2 separate regions of the Homo sapiens genome follow, and region 2 is linked to region 1. Evidence: fine-mapped expression QTL. Tissue or cell type: left ventricle. Region 1 holds a variant in brackets; the other region holds the start of a gene. All regions are shown on one strand. Distances are between the middles of the regions.

Evidence for each region. PIP is the estimated chance that this variant, and not a neighbour inherited with it, causes the effect.
Region 2: PLXNA3 starts here. The variant in region 1 is fine-mapped to the expression of PLXNA3 in left ventricle (GTEx, PIP 0.95).

Annotation. Positions count from the first base shown.
Region 1 is chrX:154,819,505-154,827,604 of GRCh38, forward strand. It overlaps SMIM9 (small integral membrane protein 9), which reads right to left. Exons shown (of 5, transcript NM_001162936.4): 5 at 3,844-4,278. The coding sequence ends at 4,251. Among named protein-coding and RNA genes, the nearest start is that of SMIM9, 11 kb to the right of the region's middle. The variant T/C (reference allele first, on the strand shown) is at 4,993.
Region 2 is chrX:154,454,871-154,462,970 of GRCh38, forward strand. It overlaps PLXNA3 (plexin A3), which reads left to right and starts at 3,411. Exons shown (of 33, transcript NM_017514.5): 1 at 3,411-3,558; 2 at 5,287-5,907; 3 at 6,229-6,768; 4 at 7,258-7,440. The coding sequence starts at 5,314. RefSeq lists enhancers at 2,819-2,888, 4,314-4,866 and silencers at 2,979-3,148, 3,279-3,518, 3,759-3,828.

The DNA of each region.
Region 1 (8,100 bases):
TGTTGGCAATTCCCTGTAGGGCTACTGCACATCACATGGAGGCAACCCCCAGACACTCCCACTTGGCCTCCAGTCACCCAGGAGCACCTTTTGACTGGGAGGAGCAAAATGCCCTTTCTCTTTGGGGTTGAGGAAACTCAGTCTCTCATTTATCTATGAAAGTGACAGTGCAGTTCCTCATGCAAATATGCAGACAAGCCAATGGAGATTAATTTGGGCAGGAAAGGCAATGGAGAAGACTCTTTAAAATGCACCTCTGAATTAGAATTGAGATCCTAAACAACCTCCTAGGAGGAAAAAAGCCCAGCCAAGACCACTTTCTGTAAACTGTCCTCGGCCACCTTTAACTGTAGCTCTTGTCTGCTATTACACATGCCAAGGTCAAATCCTCTCACAGGACAAGGTAATCTCTGGTACCCCTGATACAGGACTTAAGAAGAAATCACTTAGGCAGACAGTAAGGGTATGGGGATCCTCAGTAAAGTTTTTCTTTTTAATGAAAAGCAGCCTCAAATGATTTTCTAACAAAGAGCAGCCTGTAAAGTTCAGCTGCAGACATAGAGAGGCAAGATGGCTCCAATCAACTGGAAAGTCCATTTGCATAATAATATTCAGCTGGGGCCACCAGCCTTCCCCCGCACTATGTAAACGTCATACCTGATCGAACCAATCTGTCAGCCCTATGTAAATCAGACACCACCTCCTCAAACCTGACTAAAATTTGGCGCATCCACCACCCGCTGGTCCTTTCCACCGGGAGACCCCTTTCTCTATAGAGAAAGCTGCTTCTCTTTCTCTTCTCTTCTGCTCATTAAACCTCTGCTCCTAGACTTGTGTGTGTCCATGTCCTAAATTTTCCTGGTGCATGACAACGAACCCCAGGGTGTATACCCCAGACAATGTAGCCACTTCACCCCCAGAAGCCAAAGAGGTCAGGTAATGCAATACAGGAGAGCAGAGCTTTACACCTAAGAAGAATCTGCCCATGACTCTTGAAACTCCACAAAGAAAACAGAACAGCCCCAAAGGAGTGAACGGTGCCTTTGTCCTGAGTTCTTTAAAGGGTTAGAGTCATTAGATGCCTTCTTTATATTCTTCTTGGTACCAAAGATGGCGAGGGGAGAAGGAGGAATAGGGTGGAAGAAAAGTAAACGAAAGAACAGTTATTTTTTTAAGACAGGGAGCAAACACACAAACCAACTGCATGTTTGGTCATTTTTTTCTCTTTTGCAGCTGCGAGGAATTTTAGCCAATTCAGAGATACCTTGTTACTCACTATTTGGAATTCTCATTCAAATTTGACCAAGTCAGGTAGAATTGGCCAAATCTGATGGGAGAAAGACTGGAACAAACAACAAAAGAACCCCAACAATATGATTACTGAGTCCTCTAATGGTAAGGAGAAATTAAGACCAGCCGACTGTGAATCATAACTTTAGCCAAGAGAAAACTCCAATTCAGCTACTTACCTAGGAGTGGGTCTCAGGCTGAAGACTGCTCTCTACCATCCCAGAAGTAGGAAAAAACTCAAACTCACCTTCCCTGTTGGAAGTGAGCTCAAATTCCAGAATGCAGTTATTTGCCTTTCATTGTCATGGAAGCAGGAAAACTTGCCTTCCTTGTTGGAAGCAAGCAAAACTCCAGAAAAGGAGTTGTACAGCAAAATAAACTTTAGATCTCAACCAAATTTTGGGAGATGAGGGATTCTCTGGAGGGAGGGGAGCTCCCAGGCCTCAGCAAATTGTTCTATTGGTTTGAGCCATAAAGATAGCTCGAGTTGGTACCAAGTACTGATAGGAGATTTGTCAAAGGTCAGGGCCACCTCCACTCAGAGTCTCTTTGTGGTCACCAAATGTGTACCTCAAATATCTCAGACAGGTCTCAGTGAATTTAGAAAGTTTATTTTGCCAAGGTTAAGGACATGCCCATGACACAGCCTTAGGAGGTCCTGATGCCATGTGCCCAAGGCTTGGTTTTATACATTTTAGGGAGACATGAGACATCAATCAATATATGTAAGATATGCAATGGTTTGGTCCAGAAAGGTGGGACAACTTGAAGTGGGGAGGGGGCTTCCAGGTCATAGTTAGATAAGAGAAAAATGGTTGCATTCTTTTGAGTTGCTGATTAGCCTTTCACTGAATACACAATTTACATGTGAGAGCAGGAAGAGTCACTTATGCTTTAGTCTGACTTTGTGAAACAATAGGGCAAAGGAAGCAATCAGATATGCATTTGTCTCATGTGAGCAGAGGGATGACTTTGAGTTCTGCCTGTCCTTTGTTTACAAGGAATTTCTTCATGGGCAAATTGTGAGGAAGGTATGTAGCTTTAAAAAAAAATCTTTGTAGTTATCTTATTTAGGAATAGAATAGGAGGCAGGTTTGCCCAATGCACTTCCCAGCTTGACTTTTCCCTTTCGCTTGGTCATTTGGGGGCGATTTATTTTCCTTTCATGGGGTCAATCCATCAAGAAGACATAACAACTGTAAATATATATATGTATGTACCCAACATTGGAGCAGCTAAATATATAAAGCAAATATTTACAGAAGACAAGGGAGAAATTGACAGCAACACGGGGACTTCAACACCCCATTCTCAACAGTGGACGCATCATCCAGAAAGACAGTCAAAAAGGAAACATTGGACTTAAGCAAAACTCCAAGTCTTTTCTGAGTTCACCTTGGCTTGCCACAGCAGGCCACATGACAGGCCATGTGGCAGCCCACTGGATCTCACCTCAGCATCAATTAGAATTTCACTTCAGTTTTTCTTTCTCTTTGCATTTTCTCTGTAGTAAATTCCTAACCTCCTGCAGTTTTCTCTAGCTCAATAAATGACAACCCCATTCTTTCATCTGCTTGGGCCAAAAACCTCGGAGGCATGCTTGAAGCCTCACTCTCTCTCTCATCTCATCCAAATCCTAATCAAATCCCATCTGCTCTCCCTTCACATCCCTCCTCCGATCTAAACCTTCTGTTGGCCCCCACTATGGCCCCCAGGAAGAGCCTAAATCCTTTCAATGGCTCACAATATCTACTCTGCCCCTCGCTTAATCTGGTTTCTCTGAATCTTCACATTAGCATGGTGGCTCCACAAGAGCTGGGGTTAGATAGCACCATTGCACTCCAGCCTGGGTGACAGAGCAAGACCCCGTCTGTTTGTTACCTGTTCAGTGTCTGGCTCACAGTAGGTGATCAACAAGTGTCTGTTGAATGAATGATTTCAAACTCAGAACAGCAAAAAGGAAAAGCAAATTAATATATATTTTTTTGTGACGGGGTCTTGCTCTATCACCCAGGCTGGAGTGCAATGGCACTATCTCAGCTCACTGCAGCCTCCACCTCCCGGATTCTAGCAAGTCTCCCACCTCAGCCTCCTGGGTAGCTGGGATCACAGGGGCTCACCACCATGGCCAGCTAATTTTTGCATTTTTAGTAGAGATGGGGTTTCACCATGTTGGCCAGGCTGGTCTCGAACTCCTGACCTCAGGTGATCCACCCGCCTCGGCCTCCCAAAATGTTGGGATTACAGGCATGAGCCACCGCACCCAGCCAATAATTTTTAATAATATTACCTGTATTACATTTATAATAGTCAATAAATAGAAATACCTTAAATAATTATTATATGGAGAGGTCATTAAATGACTTATGTCATCTCCACTACATTAAAAAAAAAAGCTCATGTTTAAATTAGTTTGGGAAATGCTATATATTATACTCCCTTGTGGAGATTAGTATTAGCCTGTTAAAAGTTCTTAGAAGTCCTTGAGCAAAGAAAGATAGCTTTAAATTTGTTTAATCCAGCATTTCCCAAACATAACTGACCACAGGGCCCTCACTGTTTTGTGACTTTTATTAAAACAGAACTATTGTTTCACAGAACAGACTTTGGAAAACTTGTAATACATATATAGAAAAAAATTGAAGGGAGGTACATCAAGATGTTAATGATGTTTATTTCTGGTTGCTAGAATTATGGAAACTTACTCTTTTCTCTGTATTTCTCAAATTTTTTTTGCAATAAATATGTATTACTATTATAACCAAAACAGTAATAAGGATATTCACATTTTAAAATTGCAACTTTTGAAGGAGAAAATGAAGGCAAAGGATGATTCAAGTTGGAAGACGATTTAATTTCAACTGATAGATACTTCCTCATTTTAAGCAGATAGCAAATGCCCCACTCTTTTGGAGTCCAACTGGAGAGACCACACTTGCCCTGTTGAATCTTCTAGTTCTTCAGTGGACTGGATCAACTACAAGAATGCTGGGAAAGGAAGATAAAATGGTGAATGCTCTGCACAGAGTTGCTATATAATTATATAACCTTTTCAAAGATTGGATTTGACACCAGTTTTTCTCTTAATATGAACCAAATAATTCCATACAAACAAAATACTTTGATGAAAAAGCAGAATAAGAATGTGTTTCCAGTACAGTGGGGCTTGGAGGTAGTGGTATAAGTATGGTTAGGTAGTTTTTCTTCTTTTGTTTTTAAAGTATCTTTTTAAAAATGAACTGATCAAACAATACAGCTCATTGTAGAAAGATCAGAAAGTGGGCCGGGCGCGGTGGCTCACACCTGTAATTCCAGCACTTTGGGAGGCCGAGGCAGGCAGATCACGAGGTCAGGAGATCGAGACCATTCTGGCTAACAGGGTGAAACCCCGTCTCTACTAAAAATACAAAAAATTAGCCTGGCGTGGTGGCGGGCGCCTGTAGTCCCAGCTACTCGGGAGGCTGAGGCAGGAGAATGGCGTGAACCCGGAGGCGGAGCTTGCAGTGAGCCGAGATCACGCCACTGCACTCCAGCCTGGGCGACAGAGCGAGACTCCGTCTCAAAAAAAAAAAAAAAAAAAAAGAAAAAGAAAAAAAAGAAAGATCAGAAAGTGCAATTAGACAGGAAAAACAAAAGTTAACACCACCGCCAATAGTAATAAAACAACCTATTCACTACCACAAGGAGATAACCAATGTCTAA[T/C]ACTTGGGTTAGGTTCTTAGAGGCTTTCCCCCTATACAATTAGTTTTTAATAAGAAATTAGACTAAACTATATATCTTCTGTTATAATCTGCTTTTTCCACTCAATGATATTTCATGAATATGTTTCTGTGTAATTATCCTTAGTACTCAGTGTATGAATGTGCAATACTTTCTTTAGCTAGCCCCAGACTGATGGACATTTAAGTTTCCATTTCTTCACTATCGTAAACCATACTAAAAATTCCTTGTACACATATCTTTGTGGACTTGTTAGAGCCTGTCAGTCCTCCTGATTTCCACCTCTGCTTCTGGAATGCTGGGAGATTAGCCAAGCTTCCATGTGCCTCAGGTAATAAGCAGCTAGCTTAAGCCTTCATTACAGCTGCAGCTAATGGTATACACAGGTGAGTATAGAGGAGGAAGAATGAGGCACAGAGAGGCTGTGTGCAATCCTCACTGTGAAATGTCTTAATTAAAAATCAACAAGTATTACTGAGAGTCTACTATGTGCCCAGTAGCAAGTCCCAATTTTTCCTGGGACTTGATGTGTCCTTTATGACCACAGACTCCAGTCTTCTTTAATTTCTGCAACACTTAAAAAATTATAACTTGGCTGGGCGCGGTGACTCACGCCTGTAATCCCAGCACTTTGGGAGGCCGAGGCGGGTGGATCACGAGATCAGGAGTTCAAGACCAGCCTGACCAACATGGTGAAACCCCGTCTCTACAAAAAATACAAAAATCAGCTGGCTGGGCGTGGTGACGCGTGCCTGTAATCCCAGCTACTCAGGAGGCTGAGGCAGGAGAATCGATTCAACCCGGGAAGCAGAGGTTGCAGTGAGCCGAGATGGTGCCACTGCACTCCAGCCTGGGTGACAGACTGAGACTTCACCTCAAAAAAAAAAAAAAAAAGTCAGGAAACAACAGGTGCTGGAGAGGATGTGGAGAAATAGGAACACTTTTACACTGTTGGTGGGACTGTAAACTAGTTCAACCATTGTGGAAATCGGTGTGGCGATTCCTCAGGGATCTAGAACTAGAAATACCATTTGACCCAGCCATCCCATTACTGGGTATATACCCAAATGATTATAAATCATGCTGCTATAAAGACACATGCACACGTATGTTTATTGCGGCACTATTCACAATAGCAAAGACTTGGAACCAACCCAAATGTCCATCAATGATAGACTGGATTAAGAAAATGTGGCACATATACACCATGGAATACTATGCAGCCATAAAAAAGGATGAGTTCATGTCCTTTGTAGGGACATGGATGAAGCTGGAAACCATCATTCTCAGCAAACTATCGCAAGGACAAAAAACCAAACACCACATGTTCTCACTCATAGCTGGGAATTGAACAATGAGAACACATGGACACAGGAAGGGGAACATCACACTCTGGGGACTGTTGTGGGGTGGAGGGAGGGGGGAGGGATAGCATTAGGAGATATACCTAATGCTAAATGACCAGTTAATGGGTGCAGCACACCAACATGGCACATGTATACATATGTAACAAACCTGCACGTTGTGCACATGTACCCTAAAACTTAAAGTATAGTAACAATAAAAAAAAAAGAAAAAAGAAAAAGAAAAAATTATAACTTTTTCTTCTGTTGGATTATTTTGGTTCTCTTCATCGAAGAAATCATTCTGTGCCTCCTGCATCTACCATTTCTTCTCTAATCTTACTTTCACCAAACTGTTTACTTAATACTGCTTGCCTATATAATCCTATTTTCCATATTTTCTTTCATATTTTGCACCAATGTCTCTTTTTCTTCATGCTTCCTCATTTTGGTGATAGTTTTACTTTTTGTCTTTTACATTTTTCTTGGGATTTTCCAACTAATTTTCATCTTCTTCTTTTGTTTTGGTATACCTTATCTGCCCTGTTGTATTTCTGCATATAGCATTTACTATTATTATTATTGAGATGAGGTCTTGCTATGTTCCTAGGCTGGTCTCAAACTCCTGGCCTTAAGCAATCCTCCTGCCTCAGCCTCTGAAAATGCTGGGATTACAGGCATGTGCCACCATGCCCGACCTTAGCTATTATTTTATATTTTGTATCAAATGTTTTGAATTTATGGCAATATGTTAGTACATGGTTTTTATCTGCCCTGAGATATTTTTCTAGTGAGTATTCCTCATCTGCCATTTCTTGCTTATACGTTTCTTGTGTTTTCCATATAGTAACTCTGCATAGATCTGGTGCTGTTTCCTGTTGAATGAGGTAAACTCTTACTGGACCAGTTATTTACAGGAGATGTGCACAAGTCCAGAGCTATACTTTGGACTAACAAATTCTCTTCATGATGCTGAGGTATGTGTGAGCTCTTGTAGCCTTTACTTCTTTCCAGTCAAGTGAGAGCAGCAGATGTAGGTCTGAGCATAAAGAAGTTTCAGACTTTACCTTCTTGCCTCAACAAACTGCTTCTTAAAAATATGGCTTGCCTATATGCTTATTCATTCCAATTTACCTGTTAGGCTTCTACTTGGTGCCCAACTGGGTCCAGAAATGTTTCTTTCACTAGTTAGCTTGCTTGTTCCCAGCAAGGGCTTATTGGCTTTTCTATTCAGGTTAAGCCATCTACTTCAAAGAAGGAATTCTTTTTCTTGGCATATTGCCTGCTTTATCTTCACAGAAGTCCCTCTGAATATTAATTAACCAATACTTCAGATGCTTTTGATGCAGCTGACCTGCTGACCACAGTTTGAGTAACAATGACTTCAAAGATGTGGAACCAGACATATCTTGATTTGAGTTCCAGCTCCCTTGGTTGGTTGCTAGGTATACTAGTCAGGGATATTCAGCTGCTATAACAAACAATCCTGAGATCTTAGTAGCTTAACACAATAAAATTGATCCTTCACTCATGCCTCATTCTGATGTAAGTTAAGTTCTCCTCCACAAGGTGATTCAGGGATCCCAGCTCCTTCCATCATGTGGTTTCACCATCTTAGAGTCCTTCAGTTGAAGCCCTGCATATGTGAAAGAGAGAGGCAGCATGGACACATGTGCAAGACATTTTATGGCTAGGCCTGGAAATGTCATACATTCCTTTTGCTCGTATTTAACTGGCCAAATCTCAG
Region 2 (8,100 bases), 360 kb before region 1:
TAGAAAGATCGCCAAGGGAATCAAAGGGTAACACCTGCTCGTCTGGTCAAGCCAATGGATGAGATGACAAAGATGGGACTAAGGCCAGGCACAGTGGCTCACGCCTGTAATCCCAGCACTTTGGGAGGCCTAGGCAGGTGGATTGTTTGAGCCCAGGAGTTCGAGACCAGCTGGGCAACATAGTGAGACTCTGTGTGTATAGCAAATACAAAGATTAGCTGGGTGTGGTGGCACACGCCTGTAGTCCCAGCTACTTGGGAGGCTTAGGTGGGCGGATCACTTGAGCCCAGGAGGTGGAGACCAGCCTGGGCAACACGGTGAAACCCTGTCTCTACAAAAAATTCAAAAATTAGCCTGGCGTGGTGGCATGCACCTGTAGTCCTAGCTACTTGGGAGGCTGAGGTGGGAAGATTGCTTGAGCCTGGGAAGACGAGGCTGCAGTGAGTGGTGTTCATACCACTGCACTCCAGCCTGGGTGACAAAGTGAGACATTGTCTCCAAAAAGATCATTATACAAAAATCAATTTTTAAAAGTTTTTTGAGATAGAGTCTTGCTCTCTGTTGCCTAGGCTGGAGTGCAATGGCATGATCTTGGCTCACTGCAACCTCTGCCTCTTGGGTTCAAGCGATTGCCCCCCTCCTCAGCCTCCCAAGTAACTGGGATTACAGGTGCCCGCCACCATGCCTGGCCAATTTTCGTATTTTTAGTAGAGACGGGGTTTTGTCATCTTGGCCAGGCTGGTCTCGAATTCCTGATCTCAAGTGATCCGCCCACCTCTGCCTCCCAAAGTGCTTGAATTGCAGGCATGAGCCACCACACCTGGCCAATCAATTGTATTTCTATACACAATCCAAAATGAAATTAAGAAAATAATTCCATTTATAACAGTGTCAAAAAAGAATAAAATACTTATTAATAGATTTTTTTAAAAGAAGCATGAGATTTGTACACTGAAAAGTACAAAACATCATTGAAAGAAATTCAAGAAGACCTAAATAAATGGAAAGACATCTGTATTAGTCATGGTTCTCCAGAGAAACAGAACCAACAGGACACACACACACACAGTTTATTTTAAGGATTTGGTTCACCCAATTGTCGGGGCTGACAAGTTGGTGTGAAATTTGTAGGACAGACTGACGGGCTGGAAACTCGGAGAATTTCTGTGTTACAGTCTTGTTGTTGTTGTTGTTGAGATGGAGTCTCACTCTTGTCGCCCAGGCTGGAGTGCAGTGGCATGATATCAGCTCACTGCAACCACTGCCTCCTGGGTTCAAGCGATTCTCCTGCCTCAGCTTCCCGAGTAGCTGGGATTACAGATGCCCGCCACCATGCCCAACTAATTTTTGTATTTTTAGTAGAGACGGGGTTTCATCACGTTGGTCAGGCTGGTCTCGAACTCCTGACCTCAGGCGATCCGCCTGCCTTGGCCTCCCAAAGTGCTGGGATGACAGACATGAGCCACCGCGCCTGGCCTGTGTTACAGTCTTGAGGCAGAATTTCTGCTTCTCCAGGAAACCTCGGGTTTTGCTCTTAAAGCCATCCAACTAAATGGATGAGGCCCACACACATTATCAAGGGTGATCTCTTTTACTTAAAGTCAGTTGAGGGCCAGGCATGGTGGCTCATGCCTATAATCTCAGTGCTTTTTTTTTTTTAGACAGAGTCTTGCTCTATCTCCCAGGCTGGAGTGCAATGGCACGATCTTGGCTCACTGCAACCTCCCCCTCCCAGGTTCAAGAGATTCTCGGCCGGGCGCGGTGGCTCACGCCTGTAATCCCAGCACTTTGGGAGGCCGAGATGGGCGGATCACAAGGTCAGGAGATCGAGACCATCCTGGCTAACACGGTGAAACCTCGTCTCTACCAAAAATACAAAAAAATTAGCCGGGCGTGGTGGCGAGTGCCTGTAGTCCCAGCTACTTGGGAGGCTGAGACAGGAGAATGGCGTGAACCCGGGAGGCGGAGCTTGCAGTGAGCCGAGGTCACACCACTGCACTCCAGCCTTGGCGACAGAGCAAGACTTTGTCTAAAAAAAAAAAAAAAAAAAAAAAAAATTCTCCTGCTTCAGCCTCCTGAGTAGCTGGGACTACAGGCATATGACACCATGTCCGGCTAATTTTTGTATTTTTTGTAGAGATGGGGTTTTGCCATGTTGGCCAGGCTGGTCTCGAACTCCTGACCTCAGGTGATCCGCTCACTTCAGCCTTCCAAAATGCTGGGATTACAGGCTTGAGTCACTGCACCCAGCATATGCCAGTACTTTGGAAGGCTGAGGCAGGAGGATTACTTAAGCCCAGGAGTTCAAGACTAGCCTGGGCAGTGTAGCAAGACCCTGTCTCTCTCTACAAGAATAGGAAAAGTTAGCCAGGCGTGGTGGCACTTGCCTGTGGTCCCAGCTACCTGGGAGGCTGAGGCAGGAGGATCCCTTGAGCCCAGGAAGTCGAGGCTGCAGTGAGCCATGATCCAATGCCGCTACACTGCAGCCTGGGTGATAGAGCGCGACCTCAACTTGGGGGGAAAAATCTGTCTATCTATCTATCTCTCCATATATGTGTTTAATAAAAATGGGCAAATGACTTGAATAGACATTTCTTCAGAGATCATATACAAAAGGCCAGCAAGCACATGAAAAGATGCTGAACACCATTAGTCATCAGGGAAATGAAAAAGAAAACCTTAACGGGGCGCGGTGGCTCACACCTGTAGTCCCAGCACTTTGGGAGGCTGAGGCGGGAGCATCGTTTGAGCCTGGGGCGGTCGAGGCTGCAGTGAGCTATGATCTCACCACTGCACTCCAGCCCGGGTGACAGAGCGAGACCCTGTGTCAAAAGAAAACAAAAAAAGAAAAGGAAAAAGAAAGCAAGGGAAGGAAGAAAGCCCTCGGTTCAGGGTCGCCGGGGAAGGGGCTGGTTTGGACGGCTGTCCCGCAGGCCCTCCGGGTTAGAGACCGTCGGGGGCGTGTCTTGAGCTGGGGACGCGACTCCTCGGCGGGGGTGCACCTGAGAGGCCGGGACCAGCGAGGCCGCGCCCCGGTGGCAGGTGACCCCGGGCGCGTCTCCGAGCGCCAGGGTGGGGCGAGGCGGACGCGCGCCCCAGGCCCGAGGGGGTGTGGCGCGGGCGCGCGCGGGTTCCGGGGTCGCCCGAGGCGGCGGGCGGGGAGCCGGGGCGCGGGGGAGGCGCGCGCCGCGGACGCGGCCATCGAGCGAAGGGGGTCGGCTGGCCGGGCGGGTCCCCCTTCAGGTCGCGGGGGTCAGGGCTGCGCGCGAGGTCCCTGGCCCCGGGGAGCAGCGGCCCCGCCTGCGTCCCCTGCCGCCGCGTCCCCCTCGGCCGGGCGTCCCCGGACGCCCCCGCCCCGCGCGGTGGTACGGTCCGGGTTTAAAAGGCTCCGGCGGCCCCCGGGCCAGCCCAGTGTGTGGGCGGCGGCGGCGGCGGCTGCGCGCTTGGGGCCCGGGGCGCGGGGCGAGGCCGTGGGGACGTGCGAGCGGGGCCGCGGTGGGGCTCGGGGGCGCGTCCACGTGGCCAGAGGGCGGCCACCCGGAGCCAGCGGAGGGACAGGTAGGTGGCCGTCATCGTCGCCGTCCGTGCGGGGCCAAACAGCTCGGGGCCCGGGGCTCCGGCAGCCCGGGGGTCCGGCTCGGCCTGTGGGGGTCAGGCCCTATCCCTGCCCGTCGGCGCCGGCCTGCCCGACTCCTTGTGCCCCGCATGGTGGGGACGCCAACCCAAGACCAACACCCTGCCCAAAGAGGACCCTTTGTCGCAGGGGAGCGGCCCCTCGGAGGATCAACGCTGTACTTCCCTCCCGCTAAGGGCTCCGCGAGTCCGCCGAGGGGTGCCCTGATGGGGCCCGGGCAAACCGGACCAGCAGCACGGTGGGGGGTGTGGGGGGCGGCCGCTGGACCCCCGTCTCTGCGTGGGGCTGCCCCTTCCTCAGGCTCTCTGCTGGCCCAGCTGTACCTGTGATGCCCGAGGTTGCCACTTACAGGTGGGGGCTGGGCCTGAAACTGCCTCCCCAGGTCTCCCTCCCGACCTGTCCCCAGCCTGTTCCTAGGCTTGTGTTCCCGGGGTGTAGAGGAGGTGAAGACAGGATGTGGCCTCTCTTTTCTTTGGCCTTCCTTTCTTCTCCGGCTGTTGCATGAGGGGTCCAGCTGACAAAAGAGCCCTGGAGAGGTGATCAATCTGAGCTGAAACTTTGCAGTTTCAAGCTGGGCCCGCTGCTTGTTCCTGGCAAATGCCTTATTTTTCCTTTCTCTCTCCTGTGCCTCCTTGGTTTGGTTCCCTGCACCACCCCCCGCTCCCCCCCCGCCTCCCGCCCTCAAGCTGGGTACCTCCTATCTCCCCCGGGAGCTCTGGCACTGAGAGGGTAGCGCTGAGCCCTGCCCTGTTGGCTGCCACGACACTGCTCTGCTGTCTTAGCAGCCTGGGGCTGACTGGGTGTGGCCTGGGGACTAAGTGCCAGTCCCAGCACTGTCCCTGTGGCTCCTGCCCTGTCTCTCCAAGGCCTTGACTGTATTTGGGGACATTGCTCCTCCTCTTGTAAGGCTCCTGGGACTCCAAAGGGCAGGTAGGGCCCCCTGTACATTCCCTTCTCCAGTGAACCCCTGGGTCTGGAGGGGGAGCCATGCAGGCTGTGGCTGAGCAGAGCTTGACTGATGTGTGTCTGGGTGCGTGGCTGAGGGGCAGGCGCGACTTGGCTTTGTGTTGCATCGGGGAGGCCAGACAGCGGGCTCCTGGATGGCCAGCTGAGGCCCTTGTCGGGGAGGCAGCTGGGGCCCCTGCAGGGGACATGGTGGTGCTGGATCCTGCATCAGGCCTCCATTCCCCAGACCTCTGTCCCAGGGCTCCTGGTGGCAGTGCCACTCCAGGTGGTGTTCCTGGCCCTGCCCCTCTCCCCCAGCTTGCGATTATTCTGTGCCTGCCTCCCTCTCCCCTCAGCTCAGGCGTTGGGGGCAGCCCAGAGGCCTGGGGCTTGCTGTTCTTTGCTGTTGGTTGCCCCGGGCTCTGAGATGTGGCATCTGGGGTCCCAGTTCCAGCATCTGCTCTGCTACCCCCTTGGGTGTGGCCCAGCTGAGGCGAGGCCTCCTGGCTCCTTTCCAGCATGGGGGCTGAGGGACGATTGATGGCCCCCAAGCCTGCCCTCGCTGGCTGCTCACTCATGCGCCCTGGCGGAGGCCCCTCCTCTCTCCCTGTCACGGTGGCCATCTGGGGCTTTGGCGGGGTGGTGGGTGAATGGCCCAGCCCTCTGTGGCTCGAGGCCTCTGACTCCCACACACCGTCTCTCCCTAGGCCTGTCCCCAGGCGCGGCTGCCGGCCATGCCCTCTGTCTGCCTCCTCCTGCTGCTCTTCCTTGCCGTGGGGGGGGCCCTGGGCAACAGGCCCTTCCGTGCCTTCGTGGTGACAGACACCACGCTTACCCACCTGGCTGTGCACCGGGTGACTGGGGAGGTGTTCGTGGGCGCAGTGAACCGAGTCTTTAAGCTGGCCCCCAACCTGACTGAGCTGCGGGCCCATGTCACGGGGCCCGTCGAGGACAACGCTCGCTGCTACCCGCCCCCCAGCATGCGCGTGTGTGCCCACCGCCTGGCCCCCGTGGACAACATCAACAAGCTGCTGCTCATAGACTATGCGGCCCGCCGCCTGGTGGCCTGCGGCAGCATCTGGCAGGGCATCTGCCAGTTCCTGCGTCTGGACGACCTCTTCAAGCTGGGTGAGCCGCACCACCGCAAGGAGCACTACCTGTCGGGGGCCCAGGAGCCCGACTCCATGGCTGGTGTCATTGTGGAGCAGGGCCAGGGGCCCAGCAAGCTGTTTGTGGGCACTGCTGTCGACGGCAAGTCGGAGTACTTCCCCACCTTGAGCTCCCGCAAGCTCATCAGTGATGAAGACAGCGCGGACATGTTCAGTCTCGTGCGTGAGCCTTCCTTCTCTTCTTCCTCCACCCAGTCCTGGCTCTGCCTCCCAGAAGAGCCCTGTTCTTTCTGAGAGGGGACTTTCGGCTCCTCAGTGTCTGGGATGCAGACAGGTTGCGGAGGGTGGGATGACAGCCTGAACCCAGGTTGCGGGGGTCCCCTGTGTGCAGGGAGGCTGGTCACCCTGCCCTCTGCAGCCTTTCTGGCCTGGGCCTCTGTGATCATCCAGGCGGGAGGGGGATGCAGAGGGAAGCTGGCGGTGGCCCGTGATGTTGGCACAGGGCCTCACCGGATGCTGTCTCCTCCCCCTGCTCCCCAGGTGTACCAGGATGAGTTTGTGTCCTCCCAGATCAAGATCCCCTCAGACACGCTGTCCTTGTACCCTGCCTTTGACATCTACTACATCTACGGCTTCGTCAGCGCCTCCTTCGTGTACTTCCTGACGCTGCAGCTGGACACCCAGCAGACGCTGTTGGACACAGCGGGCGAGAAATTTTTCACGTCCAAGATCGTGCGCATGTGCGCGGGAGACTCAGAGTTCTACTCATACGTGGAATTCCCCATCGGCTGCTCCTGGCGCGGCGTGGAGTACCGCTTGGTGCAGAGCGCCCACCTGGCCAAGCCTGGCCTGCTGCTGGCCCAGGCCCTGGGCGTGCCGGCTGATGAGGACGTCCTCTTCACCATCTTCTCTCAGGGCCAGAAGAACCGGGCCAGCCCACCCCGGCAGACCATCCTCTGCCTCTTCACCCTCAGCAACATCAATGCCCACATCCGGCGCCGCATCCAGTCCTGCTATCGTGGGGAGGGCACTCTGGCTCTGCCCTGGCTGCTGAACAAGGAGCTGCCCTGCATCAACACCGTGAGCCCCTCATCACCCCACACTGGTCCTCTGCCCTGTCCCAGGTCTACCATGCCCAGCGTGGGCTCACGGCCAGTCATCCTGTCCCAGGCTTTGCCATGGCCCTGGGAGTGGCACCTTTGCCCTCCCACCTGTTTCTCCCTCCCAGGGGTCCCTGCCCTCTCCTTGCCTCTCTCTGGGCTGCCCAGTGCCCCACTTCTGCTTCCTTCCGTTCCCAGCTCGTTCCTCCTTGCTCCGTCTCCCGGTTGCCCCTTGTCTTGAGCCAACAAGAGTCTTGTGGGCCCAGGCTTCGCTCCTCGCTCCCTGCTGTCCCTCCTCTGTCTCCCTCCGCAGCCACCAATTTCCTGGAGCACCCTAGGGCGAGCAGTCAGTCCTGGCTGGAGGGGACCGGGTTCTAGATCCCGCTCTCTTCTGGGACACAGGAACTGCCGGCCTCCATCTTGCGCCTGGGAGCTTTGACTCTCACGGGTTCCTCCTCTGTTTCACCAGCCCATGCAGATCAACGGCAACTTCTGTGGGCTGGTGTTGAACCAGCCTCTGGGAGGCCTGCATGTGATCGAGGGGCTGCCCCTGCTGGCCGACAGCACCGACGGCATGGCCAGCGTGGCCGCCTACACCTACCGCCAGCACTCTGTGGTCTTCATTGGCACGCGCAGCGGCAGCTTGAAGAAGGTGGCCCCCAGAGCCCTGGGCATGTGGGGGTGGGGACAGTCTCAGATATGGGACAAGGCTGGTGGGAACACACGGGAGAGCTCTGAGGACAGGACAGGAGAGGACACGGCTGGTGCAGGGAGGGAGATTTCCCTGGCTGGGTCCCAGGCGCCTGGCCCTGCTCCTCGGGTCGCCCCTTGGCCGCCCACCCTCACCATTGCCAGTTCCCACTGTGGACTGAATTGCCAGCTTCGTATGGCTCTGGGGACAGAGAACAGACCTATTGTGGAGTCTCCCTGCCACGAGAGCAGGCCTGGGGCTGAGCCAGCATTGCTGGGTCCTCTGTTGAATGAACAAGGGAGCAAATGCCTTGCCCCTCAAGCCTCCCTATGCCTGGGACAGACCCACTTGCCCCTGCCCTCTCCTTGGCTCACTACTTCCCATCCTTCCCCTCCTACCCATGGGCCCGGGGGCTGAAGCTGCTTCCATTGGGGATCTGGGGGTAGCTTGGCATGAAGGGGGAGATGAACTTCTGGGCACTCAGGTACGTGTTGAATAGGTAGGAGTCGGGGGACTGCAGTGCTCTCATCCTGCTTGCCTCGTAGATGCAGTGCCATCCCCCAGGAGGGCAAGTGTTGGTCTGGGGGCGCAGGGAAGGGTTTGTGGAGAAGGATGATGAAC